4 linked regions of the Homo sapiens genome follow. The protein of the gene in region 2 purifies or fractionates together with the protein of the main gene of each other region. This does not show direct contact. Each region holds a gene or a part of one and is shown on either strand. Other genes may lie near its edges. The genes, in order: MRPS35, PPAN, REXO4 and ZNF317.

Region 1 (7,037 bases), on a different chromosome or scaffold from region 2:
TCTATGAATTTACAAGCGTTCCTGGAACCAATCCCAAACAGATACTGAGGAACAACTGTATGATAATTAACAAACAATAGGTCATAGATCTAAATGTAAGAGCTAAAACTATAAAACTTTTAGGAGGAAACACAAGAGTGAATCTTTTATGACCTTGAATAAGACAATGATTTCTTACATATGACACCAAAAGCACAAGAAACAAAAGGAAAAATACTGTCATACGCCACTTAACAATATTTTTTGACAAAGACATGGCTAGGTGATTTTGTCATGTACAAACATCATTATGTATTTACACAATCCTAGGTGGTACAGCCTACTACACACCTAGACTACATGGTATAGTCAATTGCTCCTTGGCTACAAACCTGTGTAGCATGTTACTGTTAAATACTGTAACAACTGTAACAAAATTGTACTTGTGTATTTAAACATATCTAAACATAGAAAAAGTGCAGTGAAAATACAGTATTATAATCTCTTGGGACCACTGTTGTGTATGTGTTTATCACTGACCACAACATCATTATGCAGCACATGACTTACATAAATTGGACTTCATCAAAATTAAAACTTCTGTGCTTAAAAGGCTCACGCCTCTAATCCCAGCATTTTGGGAGGCTGAGGCAGGCAGATCACAAGGTCAGGAGATCGAGACCATCCTGGCTAACACGGTGAAAACCCCATCTCTACTAAAAATACAAAAAATTAGCCAGGCGTGGTGGCGGGTGCCTGTAGTTCTAGCTACTCGGGAGGCTGAGGCAGGAGAATGCTGTGAACCCAGGAGGCGGAGCTTGCAGTGAGCTGAGATCGAGCCACTGCACTCCAGCCTGGGTGACAGAGTGAGACTCCGTCTCAAAAAAAAAAAAAAAAAAGGACATCATCAAGAAAGTAAGAGGACAACCCAAAGAATGGAAGAAAATGTTTACAAATCATATATCTGAGAAGGGACTGGGACTGGTGTCCAGAATATATAAAATACACTTATAACTCAACAATCGAAAGATAAACAACCCAATTAAAAAACAGGCAAAGGATATGAACAGACATTTCTCCAAACATATACAAATAGTCAACAAGCACATGAAAAGATGGTTATTAGGGAGACACAAATCAAAACTACAATGATACTTTCATACCTATCAGAATGGCTAAAACTAAAGGACAGGTAATAACCATTAGTGAGGATGTGGAGAAATAGAAAGCCTCAAACTTGCTGGTGAAATTGTAAAATAGTGAAGCCACTTTGAAATTGTTTTTCAAAAACAGTTTGGCAGTTCCTCAAAATGTTAAATATGGAGGTGCCATGCAACTCAGTCATTCCACTGCTAGGTATATACCCAAGAGAATGGAAAACACATATCTACACAAAAACCTGTATGTGAATGTTCAACAGCATTATTCATCCAAAAAGTAGACACAACCCAAATGTCCACCAATTAATGAATGGATAAATAAAATGTGGTATATTCATAAAATAAAATATTTGGCAATAAAAAGAAATGATAAAATAATACATGCTACAACAGATGAAACCTATTGAAAACATTACACTAAGTGAAAGAAAACATATTGCATGGTTCCATTTCTGTAACACATCAAGAATAGGTAAATCCAGAGACAAAAAGTAGATTAGTGGCTAAAAGGGGCTTGAGGATGGTTAAGGGGGGAATTCTATAGCAAGTGAACTATGTCTCAATAAAGCCATTATTAAAAAGAAACAACGGCCCTGTAGTGGTGGCTCACATCTGTAATCCCAGCACTTTGGGAGCCCAAGGCAGGCAGATCGCCTGAGTCCAGGAATTTGAGACCAGCCTGGGCATCATGGCAAAACCCTGTCTCTACAAAAATTCAAAAAAATTGGCCAGGCATGGTGGCACACTCCTGCAGTTCCAGCTACTGCTCAGGAGGCTGAGATGGGAGAATCACTTGAGCCCGGATGGAAGAGACTGCAGTGAGCCAAGATCGCGCCACTGCACTTCAGCCTGGGTGACAGGGTAAGACCCTGTCTCAAAAAAAAAAAAAAAAAAAAAAAAAGGTATACAAGGAATCAATACACCACCAAAATGAGCAAATGACAAAAAATACATGTTTTGCAAAGGAATAAATCCTCAACCTCACTAGTATTCAAAGACATACAAATTTTAAATATAAGACAAATTTTTTACCTATCAAGTTGACAGGTAATATGTAGGTTGGTGAGAGCACAGGAAAGCAGGCCTTCTCACATTCTGCTGGGATTATATTTTTTTACATTTCCTGCAGGAATTTTATAATATATATCAACAAACTTCAAGAGCTATATCCTTTGACCTCATAGTTCTCCTTTCAGGAAGTTATCTTAGGAACATCATTAGAAATACATACAAATATTAATACCTAAGAATATTCATTAAAATATTTTTCTAATAAAGAAAACCATTAAAAAGCCTAAAGGTTCCATAATACAGATAAATTATGGTAGCCCTGTATTATGAAATTATTTATATATCACACTTCAGTCTCAGAAAAAAGGCTAAGTTTGAAGTGATCAACATTACACCCCCAGATTCAAACACTGTCTTGGTACATAACAATCTCTCATTTATACGTTATTCTATGCAGCCATTAAAATTAAATTAGATTGGGTGCAGTGGCTCACACCTGTAATTCCAGTGCTTTGGGAGGCGGAAGTGGGAAGATCACTTGAGCCAGGAGTTCAAGAAAAGCTGGGCAACAAAGTGAGATCCTGTATCTACAAAAAATTTAAGAAAATGGGCTGGGCAGTGTCTCACACCTGTAGTCCCAGCCACTTTGGAGGCTGAGGCAGGACAATCAATTGAACCCAGAAATTGGAGGCCACATTGAGCTATGTTAGTGCCACTACTCTCTGCCTGTCAGATCTCATCTCAAAAAAATTCAAATTAAATTAAAGAATGTTTAATATTATTGGGAAATGTTTAATTCTTGTTAAGAGACTGCTGAACACATACAGTATCATCCCATTAATATACACAAAGGCAGGCTGTGACTATATACTAAAATGAGCTACTATAGTTAACAGTGGTTACAAATAGTAGATTTACGGGCAATTTTGTAATTTTTTTTTTTTCCGAGATGGAATCTCGCTCTGTCACCCAGGTTGGAGTGCAGTGGAGCGATCTCAGCTCACTGCAACCTCTGCCTCCCGGGTTCAAGCAATTCTCCTGCCTCAGCCTCCGGAGTAGATGGGATTACAGGTGCCCACCACCACGCCCAGCTAATTTTTGTATTTTTAGTAGAGACGGGGTTTCACCATGTTGGCCAGGCTGGTCTTGAACTCCTGACCTCAGGTGATCCGCCTGACTCGGCCTCCCAAAGTGCTGGGATTACAGGCAGGAGCCACCATGCCTGGTGTATAATTTGAAACTTGTATTTTCCAAAATTTCTGTGAAAAATATTACAGTTTTATAATCACACATATCAATTTCTTTCTTTATTTTTAGAGATAGGTTCTTGCTATGTTGCCCAGGCTGGCGTCAAATTCCTGGGCTCAAGCAATTCTCCCACCTTGGCCTCCCAAAGTGCTGGGATTACAGGCATGAGCCACTGTGCCAGCCACCAAAGACATCTTTAAATAATGTATTAGAATGATTCTTATTTAAAAAAAAAAAATGAAAAAAACTCTTACTCTTAAGACTACTACTCGTGCTCTGGGGTTCCGAACAGATGGTCCTGATGAAACATAATCAGTGCTGTCAATTTCAATTGGAAAATGCTTCTCACATTTCTCGTCACTGTCCAGTGCGGCTGGCCACTCAGTGCAAAAATCTGAGAATAAAAGAAATAATTTCAATTACACTTTTGCAAGTAAATTCTCATTGTAATGCATACTACTAGACAATACCAAATTACTGAGAGCATCACCAAGTTACATGAAAGAACAGATTCTCTTCTGCACTTTACATATATAGCATCATCCCTTATCCCTTTTCCTATCAGGTACATCCTAAATTAGGCAATTTAATTAGGGAATTCTTTGGATATTTCAGGTTTGGTGGTAATGGTATTTTCAGTTAAAAGGGAACTGTGCCTTGATGGAAGCTTATTATAAGCTTTGCACATATCTGTTACTGGACAGTTTACTTCCTCTGTACCAACTAAAAGCAAACAGTTCATAGTGCCCACAGCATTACTGTTTTCAAAAAAGTAACAGATAGTATTAATTACTAAAGGTTACTAAAGATCAGCTGAAAGGAATTGAAAGCTCTCAAAAAGCCCTAAGAAGAAACTGAGATGGAGTCAACAGTCGTCTAGAAATTTGGCTGAATAGAACCTCAACTCAAACAGGTACAAATGCCTAAGCCCTTAAATGGATTCTTATAAGAACTGATATTTTTTCTATGTGACTTCTATGTGCCAATGGGGTTAAATGGAAAGAAGAAAGCCTTGTCCTCATATTTGGGCAAGAGAGCATAGAGAGGAAGTGGGATTGGGTCTGAGACCTAGGCCACAACAGGAGCTCCAAGCACTGTGAACATGCCTCTCTATCTTCATAACACAGAAGCATAAACTCAGGCCCCTAATGGGAAAAAAAAAAAAACTTAAAGGAAAAGAGGTAGCTCCCAGCTTCCCCCAGGTATCAGAGCTGATTTCATCTTGTCCTGTTTCAATCAAGTTAGCATGGCAGAGAACTTTCAGCTTGAGATGAAAACTTCTGGCACTATAAGGCTGTCCACAATGGAAATCTCATTTCTTAAACAGCCTCACTCTAAGAACAGCTAAAAGTAACTGGTTTCTTGGGTCAAACATATTAGACTGCACAGATCCATGCTTCCTCCAAAAAAGCACAACTGCAGAAAAGGCTGGTCATAATCACAGGCAGATGTGGGAGCTCTTCTAGGTGACAGTCTAAGGGGCAGTGAGAACTATTTTGCCAATAACATTTCCTTGGGCTAACGATTTTCTTATAATAGGAACAATATTTTGCTCTCATTTAGGCTTTAAAATCAGAGTCTGCAAAATGTCACTCTGGATTACAAAGACTCTCTGATATCTGGGACTAAACATGTTAACAAATTAAACATAGTTCACTCCATTCCTTGAACACTGTTTAAAAAATCAATACCCGGTCGTTTTGAGGGGAAAGAAGTATCTTTGCAATTAACATCATTGTAACATTGAAAAAATATGAACAGAGCAAGATTGTTGAGGCTGAATTTCATTCCCATCATGAACTTACTCCAATATCCTGCACTATAAGATGCATCACTTCCAAGCACTTTATAAGAGAGACTAGTTTGGGGAATTTTGTGAGCTCTTGGGTTTGCACTGACTCTTTTTTCTTTTACTTAAAAAAAAAAATGTGAATAAGTCATTTCAATCATCAAATGATAATTACAGTTTTAAAATTAAATTACCTAAATTATATGTCTAAAAAAAGACAGCCAAATGGAAAACACATAATAGACTCCTATTAGCCTTTACTCATCTGATAGGTAGAGCAATAGATGAGACTTTGGAAGACCTTAGTTTGTATTTAACTTCTGCCACTGATTATTAAAGTTTTGGTAAATTACCTAACTTTCCCATGCTTCAGATTTTCCATTTGCAAGTTAGATATAAAATCTGAACTGACCTACTTTGAAAGAAAACTGAGAAGAAGTACTTGAAAAGCCTTTGAGTTATACGGAAGACGCAATCTGAATCCGGAGGCCAGCAGCAAGTGTAAAGGGATAATTAAGGAAAGATTAAGACACTCATTTAAATACTATAAAATATAATGCCACTCTTCCGAATGTGCTGTATAAAAGCCTTTCATTTAATTTTTTTAAACTTTTTTATTTTTATGTTTTTTTGCGACAGGGTCTCACTCTGTCGTCCACCTCAGCCTACAGAGTAGCTGGGACCACAGGCATGCGCCATCACACCCCAGCTAATTTTTTAATATTTTTGTAGAGACATGATCTCACTATGTTGCTCAGGATGGTCTCAAACTCCTGGGATCAAGCAATCCTTTTTCCTTGGCCTCTCAAAGTGCTGTACTGTGGAATTAAAAGCATGAGCTACCACGCCCTGTCACATTTAAAAAGAAGAAACATGGAATTTTTCACAGTGCAATGCCATTTGTTAACTGTCTTTACAGATGATCAAATACTAATACATGATTTGTGGCAAACGGGACAAAAACTTGTTATTTTATTTTATTTTTTTTTATTGTTTGAGACAGGATCTCACTTTGTTACCCCGGCTGGAGTGCAATGGCGTGATCTGAGCTCACTGCCGCCTCAATCTCCTGGGTTCCAATCCTCCTGCCTCAGGCCCCCGAGTAGCCGGGACTACAGGCACATGCCACCACACCCGGCTAATTTTTTGTGTTTTTTGTAGAGATGGGGTTTCACCACATTGCTCAGGCTGGTCTTGAACTCCTGAGCTCAAGCAATCCACCCACCTCAGACTCCCAAAGTGCGAGCATTACAGGTGTGAGGCACCATGCCCAGCCTGGGACACAAATTTGGAAGTGATCAGTTTTAATCTAATTCCAGGCACAAATGCATAGAGAAACACACACTCTAAAGGGATAGAAAAGCATCCCAATGTCCTAAAGTAGAAGACCTATTAAGAGGCAACAGATTTTTCCTCCCTCATTTCAAGAGTAAGGTTATTATTCCTATGTTTTAGGACCTCTTTATATAGTCTTCCTTACATTTTTAAACGGAAGGCCCTTTCAAAAGCTCAAATTTAATCATAATTATGTTTACTATTCCACATCTCCTTCCCAACATAATCAGGATACTTGTGAAGTGTTTCTAGGTTTCATATTCTTTCCTGAAAAGCCTTAGTAAGTATACTGAGCATGTAATATACAACACCTTTAAATCAGCATGAGTATATTAAGACTTTATCCAAAGGTACCAACTCCTAAATAAATCTAATCAATCATAACTATCAATCAGAACTTAAATTGGAATATATACATAATTATAAAAGCATACACAGAACCATGAGTTAAAAAATGTTATTTGCCTTTACCTCCATGCATGTAGAAAGAAGGAGAAGGAGAAGTAGTAGTGTAA
Region 2 (3,188 bases):
TGCGCCACCTGATGACGGTGAGAAAAATCTCCCTCCTTCGGGAGGATGGGGGGGCCTGCTTACCCATTACTGGTGCCAGTGCTCACCACAGTGCCCAGGGCACAGCAGCACAGGGGCACTCACTCCTTGTGCACCCCACCCCTGCCTCTGCAGGCTGGGGACAGGCTTCTCCGGAGGCGCCTCCCTGCTCCCAACGCCAGCCTGCTTAAGGAGGAAGTGTCGTCTAGACGTGGCTTTTTTTTGGAGACAGGATTTCACTGTCACCGAGGCTGAGGTGCAGTGGTGCAATCACAGCTCAGTGCAGTCTCGACCTCCTGGGGTCAAGTGATCCCCCTGCCTCAGCCTCCCGAGTAGCTGGAATCACAGGCTCGCATCACCACACCCAGCCTTGACCTAGGCTTTTTTTTTTTGAGATGGAGTTTCGCTCATTGCCCAAGCTGGAGTGCAATGGTGCAATCTCGGCTCATGGCAACCTCCGCCTCCCGGGTTTAAGTGATTCTCTTGTCTCAGCCTCCCGAGTAGCTGGGATTACAGGCATGTGCCACCAGGCCCAGCTAATTTTTTTATTTTTAGTAGAGACGGGGTTTCTCCTTGTTGGTCAGGGTGGTCTCGAACCCCTGACCTCGTGTTCCACCCCCCTCGACCTCCCAAAGTGCTGGGATTACAGGCGTGAGCCACCGTGCCCAGCCCCAGACCTAGGTGTTTTACCAATACCCACTACCCCCACCTCCTGACAATCTGCAGACCCCCAGAGACAGCCAACATGCCTTCTCCTTACCCGAGACGTTGGCTGCCATGCTCCCGTGCCGATCCTCAGCCTGTGTCTGCTACCCAGTTCCCCAGCCCCTCCCCCAGTCACCAGTGGCTTAGTGGGCCCTGCCCCAGCCCCATCCCCAGTTACTGGCCCAGCCAGCAGAGCAGGCCAGCGTGCCTTTCCACCCACGTTTCCTTCCTCATTGTGCCACAACCCTCCTGAGGTTCAAGCTCATCTGCTGAAAGTGTGACCTGTCTGCTTGCACGGCTCTTTGGTGGGACTGGGGGGAGGGGCCACTCATGGCTGCTGCTGCCACCAATGAAACCAACCCCGTGCAGGGTAGGGGAGAGACCCAGCTTCCAGGAAGAAACCAGGTGGGAGGGACTCTCGGGTGTGGCCGGCCCAGGACTCTCTGGGTTGCTTTGTATGGCTCCAGAATCCCCCATCCCAAACGCTGACGTGGACCCCTGGCCAATTCAGTTCTTTACTGGAGTGGAAGGGCTGGGGACACAACTCCTTTATGAAAGGAAACCGAGGGCCACATCTCGGGCCCCAATCTGGGGCGTTCAATCCAGCCGCTGCTCCGGTGCGGCTTGGGCTCAGGCCACTCTCTTCCCTGGGCGGCCCCGGCCCCGGCCTCGCCCACCATCCCGGGAAGCCCCTCTGGGCCCCCGCCTGGCCTGGGCTCCCTGGGACTTGTCCTTGGTCTTGGGAAACTTCTGGTCACAAAGGCGACCCCTGCCTCGATCCATTTCCCACCGCTTCCGCTTCCGCCCTGGAGACTTGGCAAGCCGTTTCTGCTTGGCCTCGGGGAACAGGTCTGTGGGGAGAGACAGTGTCAGGGCCCCCAGAGACAAGGACAGGCTCTGGGTGCCCTGCTGCAGACCCCACTCCATACCCTCACTGGGCGCCTCGCCCACCGCCTGGCAGAAATACTCGATGTCATCATCTTCCTGTTCATCATCGTCCTCACCCAACTCCAGGCTCGCCGTCCTTGAAGGGATCCCAGAGGCCTCTTCATCACTACCCCCGACCCGTGCCTTCTTCATGCCCTCCAGGCTCTTCTTTCTGGAGGAGGGCGTGGGGGTCAACATAGCCGCCCATCCCAGGGACCCCCCCTTGGCCCTGCCCTTCCCAGCTCTGCCTGGACCTGTGGGCCTCCCGCTGCTCCTGCTTGCGCTGCACATTCTGGGCCTGCTGGGCCTGCCTCTGCGCCTTCAGCCGCAGCTTCTTCTCCTTGGCTTCCAGGATGGCCTGCAGCTCCTCCTCCGTCTTGCTCACTGAGCCAAGAGACGCGGGTCACCAAGATCCGGGTGCAGCTCCACACCCATGACCCCCCACCCCCGGCGGCCCCGGCCTCACCAAAACTGTGGAACATCACTTTGCCCTCCCCGACGCCCTCCTGGACCTTGATGAGCTGCAGTGTCATCCGCGGGCCGATCTGAGGGGACGAGGAAGAAGCGTCAGCCCACCGTTGGGACTGGTGGAGCCCGGGGGTCCCCCTGCCCTGGGCCTCACCTCGGTGAGCCGCACTGCACTCTGCTGGGCCCGCATGTTGCCACGGCCAGCGACAGCCTGAGGCAGCTCTGTGATGTTGTGGTCGCCGTCAGGCTCTGCCTCGCTCTCCGACAGCCCCGCGCCCCTGTGTGTAGGACATAACAGGGCTCAGTGGGGGAGCTCAGGCTCCCGGTCCTGTTCTGGGGTCCCCGGGCCGCAGTGGCCTCCCGCCCTATGCCCTCCTCACGTGGCCAGCAGCTCGCTGATGTCCTGCAGGCGGCTCATGTTGGGGAACTTCTCCTGGAGCAGCTTCTTCATCCCGCGACTCGCGCCCACAGGAACAACTTTGATGCTACTGCAGGAACATGAGTGGACGGCAAGGGGGTGGTCAGGGGGCACGTGATGGGGCTGGCGGTGCCCATCTCACCCTTCCCACAGTGCGTCAGGGCGTTTACTTTGGACAGAGCAATCACAGCGTCTCAGCAGAAGTGCTGTCATCAGCCGCATGTGGAGGCCCCCACCCGGCACCCCCTCGTCTCCCATCCTGCTGGGACACTCACTAGTGGCGGAAGTCCAGCTCCTGGGAGTCGGGGTTGTAGTCGATGAGGAGGCAGCGCTTGATGGTGTTCAGGTTCACCTGGAAGGGGAGGAAGAGAGCATAGTCCAGTAGACTCATGGCAAAGTTTGGGGAAGTGGGGGCTTTGGGGGATACACACACTGTTCGTGGACTGTGGCACTGGCTAGAAATGCTGCTTCCAGCTCGCACCTGCAGTTTTAGCTACTCCAGAGGCTGAAGTGGTGGGACTGCCTGAGCCCAGGAGTTCAAAACCAGCCTGGGCAACACGGCGAGTCTCCATGTCTACAAAAAGTAGATGGAAAAATGAGTTGGATGTGGTGGTGCACGCCTGTAGTCTCAGCTACTCGGGAAGCGGAGGCT
Region 3 (7,037 bases), on a different chromosome or scaffold from region 2:
CACCCAAGCGACCTACAGTTTGCCTCTCAGTGGAGAGGTGCTCATGGCACTTAGGGTGGTAGCCACCAGCTGCCATTTATAGCATGATGGGCTGGTGATACACCCCTATCAGCCAATAAAAGGAGAGGGCCAGGGGAGGAGTCAGCATCCCCATCTCCCATCTTGAGGCCTCCCTGCTTATTTCAAGAGGGACAGCTCTGGCCAGGCATGGTGGTTCACACCTGTAATCTCAGCACTTAGGAGGCCAACGAGGGCAGATCACTTGAACCCAGGAGTTTGAGAATAGCCAGGGCAACACAGCAAGACCCTATCTCTAAAAAAATAAAAATAAAAAAATTAGCCAGGGGTGGTGGCATATGCCTGCAGTCCCAGCTACTTCAGAGGCTAAGGTGGAAGGATTGCCTGAGCCTGGGAGGTGGCAGTTACAGTGAGCCAAGATTATGCCATTGCACTCCAGCCTGGGTGACAGAGCAAGACCCTGTCTAAAAAAAAAAAAAAGGATGAAGAACGGCTCTGCCCTTGGCACCCTCTAGAGCAGATACGACAGTGGTACCAGGCCCTTAGTCAGTGACCCTGTTTCAGAGGTTAGAGTGGAAATAACTTGCCCTCCGTTGCAATCATTTTTAAGGTCAGCAATTAGCAGAACTCTATTTTTAAACATTCCTTCTAGTTTTAAAGGTTAAAAGAAAAAACAAAAACCCTTTAACCAACAAGTCAGCCACCAGTGACCAGAAACAATGAAGTGACCAGCAAAACAGAAATACAGTATCTTGAGTCACACTCATTCTAAGTACCTTTACTTGACTCTTGAAAGGTTTATATTTCTGTGTGTCCCGAATCTTCTTTTTTGGATGATCAAGAAATAGTACCTAGAAAAATAAAATATAATGATAATCATTTTCATTTTTGGTTTGTAGTAGCAGAACCCCCTCCCCCCGCCACCTTTTGCAAGTAACATCTTTGTGTGTGTGTGTGTGTGTGTGTGTGTGTGTGTGTGTGTGTGTGTGTGTGTGACGGAGTCTTGCTCTGTCACCCAGGCTGGAATGCAGTGGCTCAATCTTTGCTGACTGCAACCTCCGACCCCAGGTTTCAAGTGATTCTCCTGCCTCAGCCTCCCGAGTAGCTGGGATTACAAGTGCCCGCCACCATGCCTGGCTAATTTTTGTATTTTTTAGTAGAGACAGGGTTTTGCCATGTTGGCCAGGCTGGTCTCGAACTCCTGACCTCAGGTGATCCACCCGCCTCGGCCTCCCAAAGTGCTGGGATTACAGGTGTGAGCCAACGCGGCTGCCCTGCAAGTAACATCTTGTAGGGAATCCAAGTGTGTCACACACACATGGAAACAAGGCACTGATATGAATTTCAACTCCAGAAGGAAATTTATTGCACTGACTTAAGCTGATGCCCAACAGTCAGAGACAATAAAAACAAAATCTTGAAATCAAGGAAGTAGGAGAAAAACAGTCAACAGTTAACCAGCAACCAACTTATTCCTATATTATACTTGTATTTTGAGTTGGTTCTACACATCAGGAAGTTGCAAATAACACATTTTAACAGCTCATCTTGCAATCTTAGCATGCAATTTTTTGTTTTGTTTTGTTTTTTGATAGGATCTCACTCTGTCACCTGGGCTGCAGTGCTATAGGGTAATCATGGCTCACTGCAGCCTTAACCTCCTGGGCTCAACTGATCCTCCTACCCCAGTCTCCTGAGTAGCTGGGACAACAGGCACACGCCACCACACCTGGCTAATTTTAAAATTTTTTATAGAGATGGGGTCTCCCCTATGTTACTCAGGCTGGTCTCTAACTCCCGGCCTCAAGCAATCCTCCAGCCTCAGCCTCCCAAAAAGCTGCGATTACAGGCATAAGCCACTGTGTCTGGTCCTTAGCATCATCTTCAAGAAAGACTTGAACATGTGCTGCGCAAGGTGCCAGGGATGGAGTCAGAGTCAGGAGGGAAGGACGAGTCCCCACGGCAGCAGTCTCTGAGGGGGTACAGCAGGAGCACACAGAAGACCTTTCTGTGAGGACACTGCCCGGGGGGTTCTCACCTCAGTTTCACCCTCTGTAAACAAGCATGAACACCTCCAGCATCTTCAATGGATTCAAGGGATCTCTACAGTGCCGTCACGGGAGCACCATAGCAAAGGCTGCTGCCTGAACATTAGCATCTCTGTCACTTCCTTCTGAACGGCTTCAAGTTCCTCACCACACCCAAGTGCTTCAAGCCGGTGGGCAGAGGTGACAACTTAAGTGTCTCTCCCATCTAGCAGACTGGCCTCCCCGCTGTTCCCACTGTGTCCTTTAAACCAACATCCAGGCATTTGCCCATAAACTCAAAGTGACCCCCACCCTGTTCTCCTGTAAATACACACGTACTCGCTCTGCCTGACTCTTCATTCCTGCCTCGGGTGACCAGGAGATGGCAGGCTGCCCTCCCCACCCATGACGCCTTCCCTGCCCAGGGTCTGTATATGTCTTTGAACTTGTTTCCCACGGTGGTGGTGTCTGAATTTGCACTTTCCATCTGAAGAACCAGGGGCTGCCCCAGGCGGGATTTTCCTCGGGACGCCAGAAAGAAGGCAAAGGCAAGCTCCCAGGGCCAGGGTGATGGTTAGGCAAGCGTAACCTGAACATGGGCCACAGGGCATCTGCCAGGATAAACTTGTTTCCTGTGGAGGGACCCTGGTCACGGATGGGACAACTGGACATTAGGCCTTCCTCCAGGTAAAAGGGGTATCAGCACCTTCATTTCTCATTAGGGCGGGGTTGCCAGCTGCTCTGGTATGGGTACCCCAGTTTCGCTGGGGGCTCTCAAAACAAGAGCCTGGCATGGCTCCTAAAACACAGTAAGAACTCAGCACGCGGTATCTGATATTATTACCAAAGTATTCCCAACATAGAGCACAAACCCACACATTGTTAAAACTCCCCAACACAGCAAGGGCGTGAGTGTAACACCCACGGAGCAGGGGCAGGCTGAGTCCCCAGGAGAGAGCCCAGTACCTTTAGGTCATTATGCAGAGCGTGCCCCACTAGAATTCTGCCCTTCAGCATCTCTGCCACTTCCTTCTGAACAACTTCAAGCTCTTCTCCTGGAAAATCAACACAAAGAAGCGGTTTTTTGCAACACACACATCACCATCATTCTGTGAGGAGGCAGCCCCGCTCCTACCCCTGGTCAGACCTAAGACAAATGGTCAGGCCTGCAATGCCACTACGGAGGGTGACTCGAAGCCACCACATCCACCCACCCCCCTGGGAGAAGTGCCTTGTGGGCCCCTGGCAGGGGTGGCTGCGAGAACCACCTCTGAGGAGAGGAATAAAGTGCTCCACACAGTCTGCAAAGTCGGCTCATGGCTGGAGGAGAGCATATGTTGAGTGTAGGCACTGAGAAACTTTTAGAGCCGCCTGGCAGCGTGGTTCTGCCTATTCAACCTCATGATTTACTTGACAATTTCCCAAATGGAAATAAAAACAAAACTGCCCCCACAAAAATGGGTAGAGATGTGTTGCCCTAGGCCCTGGGCTCCAGAGGCAGCCTTGCCTGCTTCTGGGGACCACCCCACCACCAACCCCACTTGTACCCCCCGAACAGGGGTGATTAGACCAAGGGTGGCCCGAGCCAAGTGGGACCAGCTAATTTTTTAAAAATATTTTTTAGAAGGCCAGGTGCAGTGGGTCATGCCTGTAATTCCAGCACTTTGGGAGGCGGAGGCAGGCGGATCACCTGAGTTCGGGAGTTCAAGACCAGCCTGACCAATGTGGAGAAACCCTGTCTCTACTTAAAATACAAAATTAGTCGGGTGTGGTGGCATATGCCTGTAATCCCAGCTACTCGGGAGGCTGAGGCAGGAGAATCGCTTGAACCCAGGAGGCGGAGGTTGCAGTGAGCCCAGATTGTGCCATTGCACTTCAGCCTGGGCAACAAGAGCAAAACTCCATCTCAAAAAAAAATAATAATTTTTTTTAGAAATGAGGTCTCGCTATGTTGTCCAGGCTGGACTTGAACTCCTGGGTTCAAGCAATCCTCCCTCCTCAGCCTCCTGAGTAGCTGGGACTACAGGCATGAGCCACCGTGCCCAGCTACTGGCCTGGTCTTGAAGTCAGCGGACAGGAGGCAATGAAGTGCAAGGCATAAATGGGTGTAAAGCCGTCTAAGGATGCCTTTTGTATTTTAAAACCCATCGCCCCAAAAGGAGACAAGACGCATCAAAACCAGCTGCAGTGAGTGGTCTCAGACAGAAAAGGGAACAAAAGGGAGAAAACGAATCCAGTTACTACTTTCCCTTCTAAGTTCCTGAGCTGTGGATGACATACCCTGCTTGAGGTTCTCAGGCCGAATCCCACTGACCGCTGTCCTATAGTCCGTCACGGGCTCGGTTGGTTTGACGTACTTGTCATAAACGCACTTCCCATACTGGTTCACGATGGACACACGGGCGGCCATGCTCTCCTCCCCCTTAGGGCCCACGCCCACCATCTCACAGTCCAAGGCTAAGGCTCTTGTCAGGCTGAAGGGTAACCAAAGGCTGTAGTTTAATAAACACGGCAGGCCACAGGGCTCCAGGTCAGAGCCCCAGGGATCCATGGACTAAGTGTCAGCAGAGAAAAGCTCTCTGCCCCTCACTCATTTGCACCCACGTGACAAGCTCTGTGTGGTCCTGGTTCTTAGCAGGACCCTGGGAGGTGCTTGCCTCATTCACCTCAGGGAGAGGAAAGCATCCTCTTCCTTGAAGAAGCCCCGCCCTCCACGGCTAAGCATCCCCAGCAGACCCCACTCCCTGAGACCAGCGTACCCGCCGAAGGCCTGCTCTTTCACGAGGCTGAGGCTGACGCTGCCCTCGCTCTGACCCAACTGTTTCCTCGCTATCTTGGCCGCCTCTGGACCTATGGCAGCTTCGATATCCGCTGGGTCCACGTCGTCAAACCAGATGTCTTCCCTAAAAGGCAAAGATAACAGGCTGATCACCAGAAGACCCTAGTGCAACTGGTGGGGTGGGGCTGTGGGGCTGACTGTGCAGGTGAGTGGAGCGATGGCACAGCCTGCCTCTCCCACAGGCTGGCCCCAGACACCCCGACTGCTGGCCCTGCTGCTTCTGCTATTTTGATCATCTTGGCATTTTCCTTTTTTTTTTGAGATGGAGTCTCACTGGGTCACCCAACCTGGAGTGCAGTGGCATGATCTTGGCTCACTGCAACCTTTGCCTCCCAGGTTCAAGTGATTCTCTTGTCTCAGCCTCCCTAGTAGCTGGGATTTTACAGGCGCCCACTGCCACGCCTGGCTAATTTTTTGTATTTTCAGTAGATACGGGGTTTCGTCATGTTGGCCAGGCTGGTCTTGAACTCCTGACCTCAAGTGATCCACCTGCCTCGGCCTCCCAAAGAGCTGGGATTACAGGTGTGAGTCACAGCACCTGGCCTCATCTCTTTTCTTTTTAATTAGAAAATACACTCATTATTCAAGATTTAGGAACACAGACAAACACAAAGAATATAAAACAGAAACACATAACCCACCACCCAAGTGTAATGAGTGCTAACATTTTAATTATGAAGGTAACACGTTCATTATTGAACACTTAGGAAACAGACAGACAGAATGCCTGTAAGATGGAAACACAGAACCCCTTGCCCTCCGTACTAGGAAGCTCACACAGGCACGTAACACCTGCCTGGGGAATCTGTCTCTTGGGCTAAGGTTAAATGTCATTTCCTTAGAAAAGCCATTCCTGGCCCCACTGAATGGACACGTCCCTCTTGTTCCAGGCGCCCAATACCTTCTCCTCACTAGATTTATCCTGACCACACTTAATCAACAGCTGCAGTTTACAGTCTGTCTACTGCACTTGACAATAAGCCTCAAGAGGGAGGAGCAGGCCCACCTCACTGAACTCTATCCCAGACAGCCTGCCTAGCACAACACAGGGAGGCCCCCAAATGGCTCATTCCTCAGCCATCAGCGACTGTGTCCTGAACACCCAGGCAACATGAAGCCAGCTGTAACTTATGAACACGTCACCTCCAGCTGAACCATTCAGAGAAGGCCACTGACTCCCGGTCCACCCCACGTGGGTGGCCAGCACAGGGTTTATTCTTTTCACTTGTTTTTTTGAGAGTCTTGCTCCGTCACCCAGGCTGGAGGCAGTAGTGCAATCACAGCTCACTGCAGCCTCAACCTCCTGGGATCAAGTGATCCTCCCACCTTGGCCTCCCAAGGAGCTGGGATCACAGGCAACAGCCACCACACCTGGCTCCATCACAGGGTTGAAGTAATCACCAGGCACTGAGCCAAGAGTGCCAACCTCACAATCTCCTTATGATGCCACCATGACTACCACAAGGCACAGAGGACGTCAGAAACTTGCCCCAAACCACCCAACTGGCGAGAAGCAGGGACAGGCCTCATACTTGGGTCTTTCTGGCTTCAGCACGCTTTCCTTCCACACACGTGTACTGGCACCCACTAAATGCTGAGCTCTGCTCAACGCTCGGAAGAAGCAGGCCCTGCCTTATCATGCGCACACTCTAGGGGAAAACAAGTAACAGCGAGTAAACAAAGGAACAGACGACATCAGGGTAAAGTGATGGAGAGACTGCGGTGAGGCCACCAGCCTCCATAAGGAGACAGGCCTTGGTGAAGTCGCTGTGCCTCGGTTCTCAGTGGTGAGGTGGCCCATACTTACTCGGTGGGTGGGGCTGGGGCTGCCTCCTTAGCTTTCCGCTTCTTATGCTCGATGTCCCCTCGTTCTGGAACAATATCACCATTTGTCCTTTCCTTGGTTCCTTTCTTATTGTGCTCTGTTCCACTGGCCTTGGTGCGAGGTACTGGCGCCCTCCTGTCCATCTTGGAACCTGAAGGAACAGAGCCCCTGCTGGCCTCCTGGTCTTTTCCTGCCGGCATCTCCTCTCCCTTCACTTGAGGCGAGGTCTCTTTTTTGTTTTGCTGGATAATTTTGGGCTTCTTTTTGGAACCCATCTGAGAGATGACAAGAGGCTTTTCTGGGGCCTGAGATTTTTGTTTCAGCAGCC
Region 4 (7,441 bases), 970 kb from region 2:
TGATCCGCCCGCCTTGGCCTCCCAAAGTGCTGGGATTACAGGCATGAGCCACTGCGCCCGGCCACAACTTCCCTGTTTAATAACAAATGATTTTACAACTTACTGCAGAGAGAAATAGTAACGACCATGAGAAAGATTTCTCACCTTCTTTATTTTTTCTCTTATCCTAGATTCGAGAGATTTCTCACCTTCTTGACACTAGTGCGAAAGTAGTCCAGTAACAACATCACCAGTTCTTTCTTCTTTCACTCTGCAAGCAATGAGATGTCTGCCTTCTTATCTACAGCCAGTATCTCCTGCTTTTTTTTTTTTTTTTCTTTGATACAGAGTCTCTGTCACCCAGGCTGGAGTGCAGTGGCACGATCTCCGCTCACTGCAACCTCTACCTCTTGGGTCCAAGAGATTCTCCGGCCTCAGCCTCCTGAGTAGCTGGGACTACAGGCACGCACCACCACGCCCGGCTAATTTTTGTATTTTTAGTAGAGACGGGGTTTCACCATGTTGGCCAGGCTGATCTCGAACTCCTGACCTCATGGTCCACCCGCCCCGGCCAAAGTGCTGGGATTACAGGCGTGAGCCACCGCGCTCGGCCATCTCCTACTTTTCTATGCAAGGGTTTCTCATCATTGGCACGACTGACATTCAGGACCTGGTATTTCTGTTAGAGGGAGTAGGGCATTCTATACTCTAACCACTAGATGTCAGTAGTATCCCGGGTAGTGGTAAAACCAAAGGCGTCTCCACAGGTGGCACAATTGTCCTTGTTAAGAATCAAAACGTGCCTCACTCATAGGTGGGAATTGAACAATGAGATCACATGGACACAGGAAGGACATCACACTCTGGGGACTGTTGTAGGGTGGGGGGAGGGGGGAGGGATAGCATTGGGAGATATATCTAATGCTAGATGACAAGTTAGTGGGTGCAGCACACCAGCATGGCACATGTATACGTATGTAACTAACCTGCACAATGTGCACATGTACCCTAAAACTTAAAGTATAATAATAAAAAAAGAAAAAAAAACGTGCCTGGCGCCGTGGCTCACGCCTGTAATCCCAACACTTTGGGAGGCCAAGGCGGGTGGATCACTTGAGGTCAGGAGTTCGAGACCAGCCTGACCAACATGGTGAAATCCTGTCTCTACTAAAAATACAAAATTAGCCAGCCATGATGGCTAATTACAGGCTTCATACCTGTAATCCCAGCTACTCGGGAGGCTGAGGCAGGAGAATTGTTTGAAGCCGGGAGGCGGAGGTTGCAGTGAGCCGAGATCGCACCATTGCACTCCAGCCTGGGCGACAAAAGTGAAACTAAGTCTCAAAAAAAAAGGGACCCAGCGTGGTGGCTCACGCTTGCAATCCCAGCATTTTGGGAGGATGAGGCAGGTGGATTGTTTGAGCCCAGGAGTTCAAGACCAGCCTGGGCAAACATAGGGAAACCCTGTCTCTATGAAAAATACAAAAATTAGACAGGCGCTGTGGCATGCACCTGTAGTCCCAGATACTTGGGGGGCTGAGGCAGGAGGATCACTTGAGCCCGGGAGATCGAGGCTGCAGTGAGCCGTGCACTGCAGCCTGGGTGACAGAGCAAGACTTGTCTCAAGAAAAAAAAAAAAAAAAAAGGCATGATACTGGCATAAAAATAGAAACTAAAGGAACAGAACAGAGAGCCTGGGAATAAATCCAAACATATATGATGAACTAATTTTCAATAAGGGCACCAAGAGGACAAAATGGGAAAAGGATAGCCTCTTCCGTAAATGCTGCCAGGAAAACTAGATTTCCACATGCAAAAGAAGGAAATTTGACCCTTATCTTACGCCATACACAAAAATCAACTCAAAATGGATAAAAGACCAAATATATATATATATATTTTTTTGATATTACACCAAAAGATCAGACTACAAAAGCAAAAATTAGTAGACAAATGGGACTACATCAAATTAAAAAGCTTCTACATAGCAAAGGAAACAATCAACAGAATGAATCGGCGATCCACGGACTGGGAAAAAATATTTGCAAACCACATATCTGATAAGGGGTTAATATCCAAAATTTATAAAGAACTCTTATAAATCAATAGCAGAAAAACAAATAACCTGATTTTAAAATGGGCAAAGGGTCTGAACAGACGTTTTTCCAAAGAAGGCATAAAAAAGGCCAGCAGGTATATGAGAAGGTGCTCTACATCACTAATCATCAGGGAAATGCAAATTAAAACCACTGTGAGATATCACCTCACATCCTTAAGGAGAACTATCATCAAAAAGATAGGAGAGGCCGGGCGCGGTGGTTCAAGCCGGTAATCCCAGCACTTTGGGAAGCCGTGGCGGGCGGATCACCTGAGGTCGGGAGTTCGAGACCAGCCTGACCAACATGGAGAAAGCCCGTCTCTACTAAAAAGACAAAATTAGTTGGGCGTGGTGGTGCATGCCTGTAAGCCCAGCTACTCGGGAGGCCGAGGCAGGAGAATCGCTTGATCCCGGGAGGCGGAGGTTGCGGTAGCTGAGATCTCACCATTGCCCCCCAGCCTGGGAAACAAGAACGAAACTCCATTGCAAAAAGAAAAAAAAAAAGGAAAAAAAAGATGAGAGATGAATGTTGGCGAGGGCATCAAGCAAAGTGAACCCTAGTACATTGTTGGTGGGAATGCAGACTGGTACAACCTTTGTGGAAAACAGTATTCAGGCTCTTAAAGAAATCTACAACAGAACTACTATATGACCCAGCAATTCCTCTTTTGAATATATGCCTAAAAGAGATGAAATAATCACCTCATAACGATGTCTGCACTTTCATTTTCATTGTAGCATTATTTACAATATCCAAGTTACGGAAACAACCTGAATGTCCATTGATGCTCACATGAATACGAAATACAAAATAGCAGCTATGTAGTCTGAATAATATTCTATCTCTTTTGTATTTATATATGATGTCAACATTAATATCATATAATATTGATATATATTTCATATTATATTAAATATTAATATAATATGTTGTATATAAATATATACCTATTACATAATAGATATTCCCATTATGTTATATATCATGTAATATATTATATGTAATATATGTATATAATATACTATATGAAATACATATTATATATTATATGTATTATTATATGTATATATGCTATATATTATGGTGTATATATTATGTATTATGAAATATATATTACGTTATGTAATATAGATTATATATTATATATGAATATCTTATATCCATATATATTCCATACATACATTTTATATGTGTGTGTATATATATATATACGCACCATGGTCCATCCCCTCAATAATATATTTTCCAAAACCTCAAATTTCCTTCTCTCTGTCTTTTATAATACCTGCCCTGGATAATACTAACCATCTGTCTCTCCTGCCTATATAATTCTGCCCCTACTGGTTACATGGGAAGCCTTGGTTTCCTAAAGTGTTGAGATTACAGGTGTGAGCCACTGTACCCAGCCTGATTCTGGAATTTTGTATATGCAGACTCCTCCTGCTAAAATAATATATATTATATATAATATATATTCCATAATATATATAACATACATACATATATTATTTTAGCATATATTATATAATATACGGTAATAATACACATAATACATAATTATAATAAATATGATATAATATATATTCCATTGTATAAAACATATAATATATATAACGGAATATTATTCAACCTTGAAATAGAAGGAGGTCCTGACATTTATCACAAGATGGGTGGACCTGGAGGACATTACGCTAAGTGAAATAAGCCAGACACAAAAAGAAAAATATTGCATGACGTCACTTACATGAGGAACTTTTTTTAATCAAGAGAGACAGCTCAAATACACAGAAATAAAGAATGAGGCAGTTGGGGAAGAAAATGGGAAGATGTGGGTCAAAAAATACAAAATAGCAGATATGCAGGATGAACACCACACAGGTGATGGTGATTTTACGCCCTTCCCAAGGTGTCATTCAGAGGCACGTGGTCTCCATCTGACCCTCACTGGTGATATTGATTTGATCACCTGGTCCAGATGTTGTCCAATTTCTTCGCTGTACAATTTCTATTACTTTTTCTCCATTCCAACATACGAGCAGTTTATAGAGAGGCATTTAAGGCAATTCAAATATTCTGCTCGTCATGCAAATGTCCCCCAGTTGTGTCATGTAGATGACAATTCTTGCCTGATTCAACCTTTACCACTACGATGGCTACAAAATGCTGTGGGTTGTGGTTGAAAATTTGAGTCTTGAGTAGAAATTGGAGAAATATGCTGGACCGTCAGATTCCACCGGGGCACGGCCGCCATGCCAATCCAAACTTCAAAACTACAATTCCCAGCATCCTCTCCGCCCCGCTTCCGTATTAGACGCCGCCAATGAAGTCCCGCGAGAATTGGAAGGCGGCAGTGAAGCGGAAGCCATTACTCTCTGGAGTCGATTGCCCCGAGACACATGGGCCAAGGAGGGGTCAGCGGCGAATTCTTTCGGCCTGTTGGGGACCCCTCGTGTCCCCACGCCAGACTGGACCTCCCGTATGAACTTCTCTTCGCATCGGCGGCGGCTTCCGTCACCTCCGCTCCCCCGATCCTATTCCCAGTCGTGTAAGCCCTGCTTTCCTTAACCCTTCTCCCCCTCAGTTCCAGGGGTCACGGGAGGCCTATCTGGCGGTGAGGACTAAGAGGGTACGAGGGTCGGGGGCTAAAGAGCTAGGCATCCAGACGAGGGGTGCGTTTAGATCTCGCGATCAGCGATATGAAAAGCTGGGGACGCGAAGGATAAAATTGGACCATTGCAGCTAGTGATGAGAGAAGCATTGGTCACCTGATCCTGAAAAGCCCTAAGTCTCTGGTGGGGGCGGAAAAGCCCGGCTGAAGTGAATTCAAGAGTTTGGGGGCAGTTCAGGAGATTGGGGGGCGTCAGGATTTGGACATCGCGAGGAGAAATCACCTTCTTTCTGCGCTGTAGTCAATTTTATCTCGTGAATGTCAGCACATTGGTGTTCTTATTAGCACTTACCTTGAGTACCTTTTATATTTTTAATTTAAGACCTTCTGGTTGCACTTTTTTATTTATTTTAATTTTAGTGGACTCTTGTAAATAGCCTATATGTATATTTACTATTCAGTTCAACATTTTGTTAATTAACTTGAGTTAGTCCAGTTATACTTATCGTGATTATTAATATTTTCCATTGAATTTTACCGTCTTATTTTGTGGTGTGTCCTTTCCTATGCACATATTTTAACACTGGAAAATAGGACATACATGCAAAAAAAGTATGATTACACACACACGCAGACTTACACACACTTAAAAGGACAACAGTAAAGCGAATTTACAAACCAGGCCAAGAAAGAGATTATTAAATCTCAGAAAGCTGTGTGCCTCTTCTAAACTGCATCCTCCTCTCCCACCAATACTGTCTCCGTGGATTTGACTGCGTATACATCTTTTCCAGAAAATATATTTCCTAAATTTTGGTAATTATTTGTGAATGAACTCAGGCGCTTCAGTATTTTTGGAAACAATCTTTTTCTGTATTGATTCAAGCACACCTTTGTAATTTAGAGATTTCTAAATATCTTGTAGATGAAGTACTTACACCTAGCCATTCTTTTTCAGGAATGTCATGGCTTAAATTCTAGTCAGTTCACCAAATTCCACATACTGGACTTTTGTTTTCAAGTTGTGGTGAATCTATATTTGAACTTTGGGAATATTGTCGTTTTTATGCCATTGAGTTGCAGTTAATTGATTTACATCATTTATTTACATCTTCTTTAATGCCTTTCAATAAAGTGTTTTTTGTTGTTGTTGTTGTTTTTTCCTTTTTGAGATGGAGTCTCACCCTTGTAGCCCAGACTGGAGTGCAATGACAATCTCGGCTCACTGCAACCTCTGTCTCCCTGGTTCAAGCGGTTCTCCTGCCTCAGCCTCCCGAGTAGCTGGGAATACAGGCACCCACCACCACACCCAGCTAAATTTTGTATTTTTAGTGGAGATGGGGTTTCAACATGTTGGCCAGGCTGGTCTCGATCTCCTGACCTCAGGTGATCCACCGGCCTTGGCCTCCCAAAGTGCTGGGATTGCAGGAGAGAGCCACGATGTCCGGCTCAGTAAAGTTTTATAAGTACCTGCAAAAAGGATTTAGGTTGTTTTTGTTATATTTATTCTTGGGAACTTTGTTTTTTGGTGCTCAGAAAAGTCTAACTTTTGTGTAGTTTGTTGGATGTTCTTCGTAGACAAGGAAAATGTGTACAATTCAAAAGGAAAATACAAATATTTATTTTATACAGACGATAAATTGTCTTTTTTGTTTGTTTGTTTGTTTGTTTGTTTTTTGTGCTGGACTGGGTGGGGACTTCCCTTGTCATTGACTGGAGTTTGGATGGCACACTCTAGGCAAGCCTGTTTGTTTTCTGATCTTAAAGGGAATTGTCATTTGTGTCTGCCGAAGGCTTTTCTGTCGAATAGTTTTTATTAGGTCAAGGAAGCTCCCCTCTTTTCCTACTTGAGTTTTTCTTGTGAATTGCTGCAGGCTTTTAACAAGTGATTTTTTTTTTTTTTTTGCCATTATGTATCTGTTTATTGATACATTTTGTATCTGTTTGATACAAAATCTATATTGATAGTTTTGTATCTGTTTATTGATACATTTCTAGTACCTTAAATTATGGCACTCAGTACTGCTGTGTAACAAATTAATGAGTGAATAATATAATTTTTTTTCTATCCTGTAGTGTGGCAAATTAAACCAATTGATTTTCTCTTGTTACATTGAATTTGTATTGGTAAATAATTTGGAAAGGACATGTTACTATTTGTTACTTTTGGCTTCGGTTTGCTAATACTTTGTTTGGTGTTTTTGGATCTATGCTTGAGTGAAATGTTCCTTTTCTGTTTCAGATTTATGCCAGCCTCATAAAATGGGATGAGAAGTGTTCTGTTTTCTAAACTCTGGAATGTTTTGCATAAGAATAGAATATTTTGTTCCTTAGAACGGGAGTGGTACCTGGAAAAACCATTTGGGTCTGGAGTTTTCTTTGTGGAAAGTTTTAAAGCTATTGTTTCTGTTCTTTTAAGGTTTGTGGGGCATTCAGGTTTTCTGTGTTGTTATGATGAGTAAAATTTCTTTAGGAATTTATTTATTCCATCTGAGGTTTAAATCGTATAGTCAGGGTTGTTCATAACATACTCAAATTTTTAATGCTTGCTGCATTTGTAATGTTATCCACTTTTTTATTTATAATAATTATATGTTGCTTTTTACAAAAATAAATTCCATCAGAATGTTGTCAGTTTTCTTCTTAAAGAACTTCTGGCTTGATTGAACCACTTTATGATATATATGTTTTCTATTTTATAACTTTCTGATTGTTATCATTTTCTTCCTTTTTGGGATGTTTCTTTCCAGTTTCT

The links.
Region 1: the proteins of PPAN (region 2) and MRPS35 purify together in Homo sapiens (affinity purification with mass spectrometry, with the first as the bait; 2 studies listed by BioGRID). This does not show direct contact.
Region 3: the proteins of PPAN (region 2) and REXO4 purify together in Homo sapiens (affinity purification with mass spectrometry, with the first as the bait; 3 studies listed by BioGRID). This does not show direct contact.
Region 4: the proteins of PPAN (region 2) and ZNF317 purify together in Homo sapiens (affinity purification with mass spectrometry, with the first as the bait; 2 studies listed by BioGRID). This does not show direct contact.

The regions. Positions count from the first base shown.
Region 1 is NC_000012.12:27,720,802-27,727,838, reverse strand, and holds part of MRPS35 (small ribosomal subunit protein mS35 isoform 1 precursor), read right to left. Parts: intron 3,793-7,037; coding exon 3,653-3,792; intron 2,263-3,652; coding exon of another isoform or gene 2,254-2,262; exon of another isoform or gene 1-2,253.
Region 2 is NC_000019.10:10,109,331-10,112,518, reverse strand, and holds the end of PPAN (suppressor of SWI4 1 homolog), read right to left. Parts: intron 2,889-3,188; coding exon 2,812-2,888; intron 2,771-2,811; exon of another isoform or gene 2,679-2,770; intron 2,607-2,678; coding exon 2,499-2,606; intron 2,397-2,498; coding exon 2,273-2,396; intron 2,196-2,272; coding exon 2,117-2,195; intron 2,035-2,116; coding exon 1,905-2,034; intron 1,823-1,904; coding exon 1,653-1,822; intron 1,575-1,652; coding exon 1,354-1,574; 3' UTR 798-1,353; coding exon of another isoform or gene 779-797; 3' UTR 507-778; downstream 1-506. Other genes in the region: P2RY11 (P2Y purinoceptor 11), read right to left, coding at 779-797; PPAN-P2RY11 protein, read right to left, coding at 1,497-1,574, 1,653-1,822, 1,905-2,034, 2,117-2,195, 2,273-2,396, 2,499-2,606, 2,812-2,888. UniProt on the Homo sapiens protein: May have a role in cell growth.
Region 3 is NC_000009.12:133,407,974-133,415,010, forward strand, and holds part of REXO4 (RNA exonuclease 4), read right to left. Parts: coding exon 6,692-7,037; intron 6,672-6,691; exon of another isoform or gene 6,364-6,671; intron 4,949-6,363; coding exon 4,805-4,948; intron 4,520-4,804; coding exon 4,326-4,519; intron 3,101-4,325; coding exon 3,012-3,100; intron 870-3,011; coding exon 795-869; intron 1-794.
Region 4 is NC_000019.10:9,135,970-9,143,410, forward strand, and holds the start of ZNF317 (zinc finger protein 317), read left to right. Parts: upstream 1-4,427; 5' UTR 4,428-4,623; intron 4,624-7,441. UniProt on the Homo sapiens protein: May function as a transcription factor. May play an important role in erythroid maturation and lymphoid proliferation.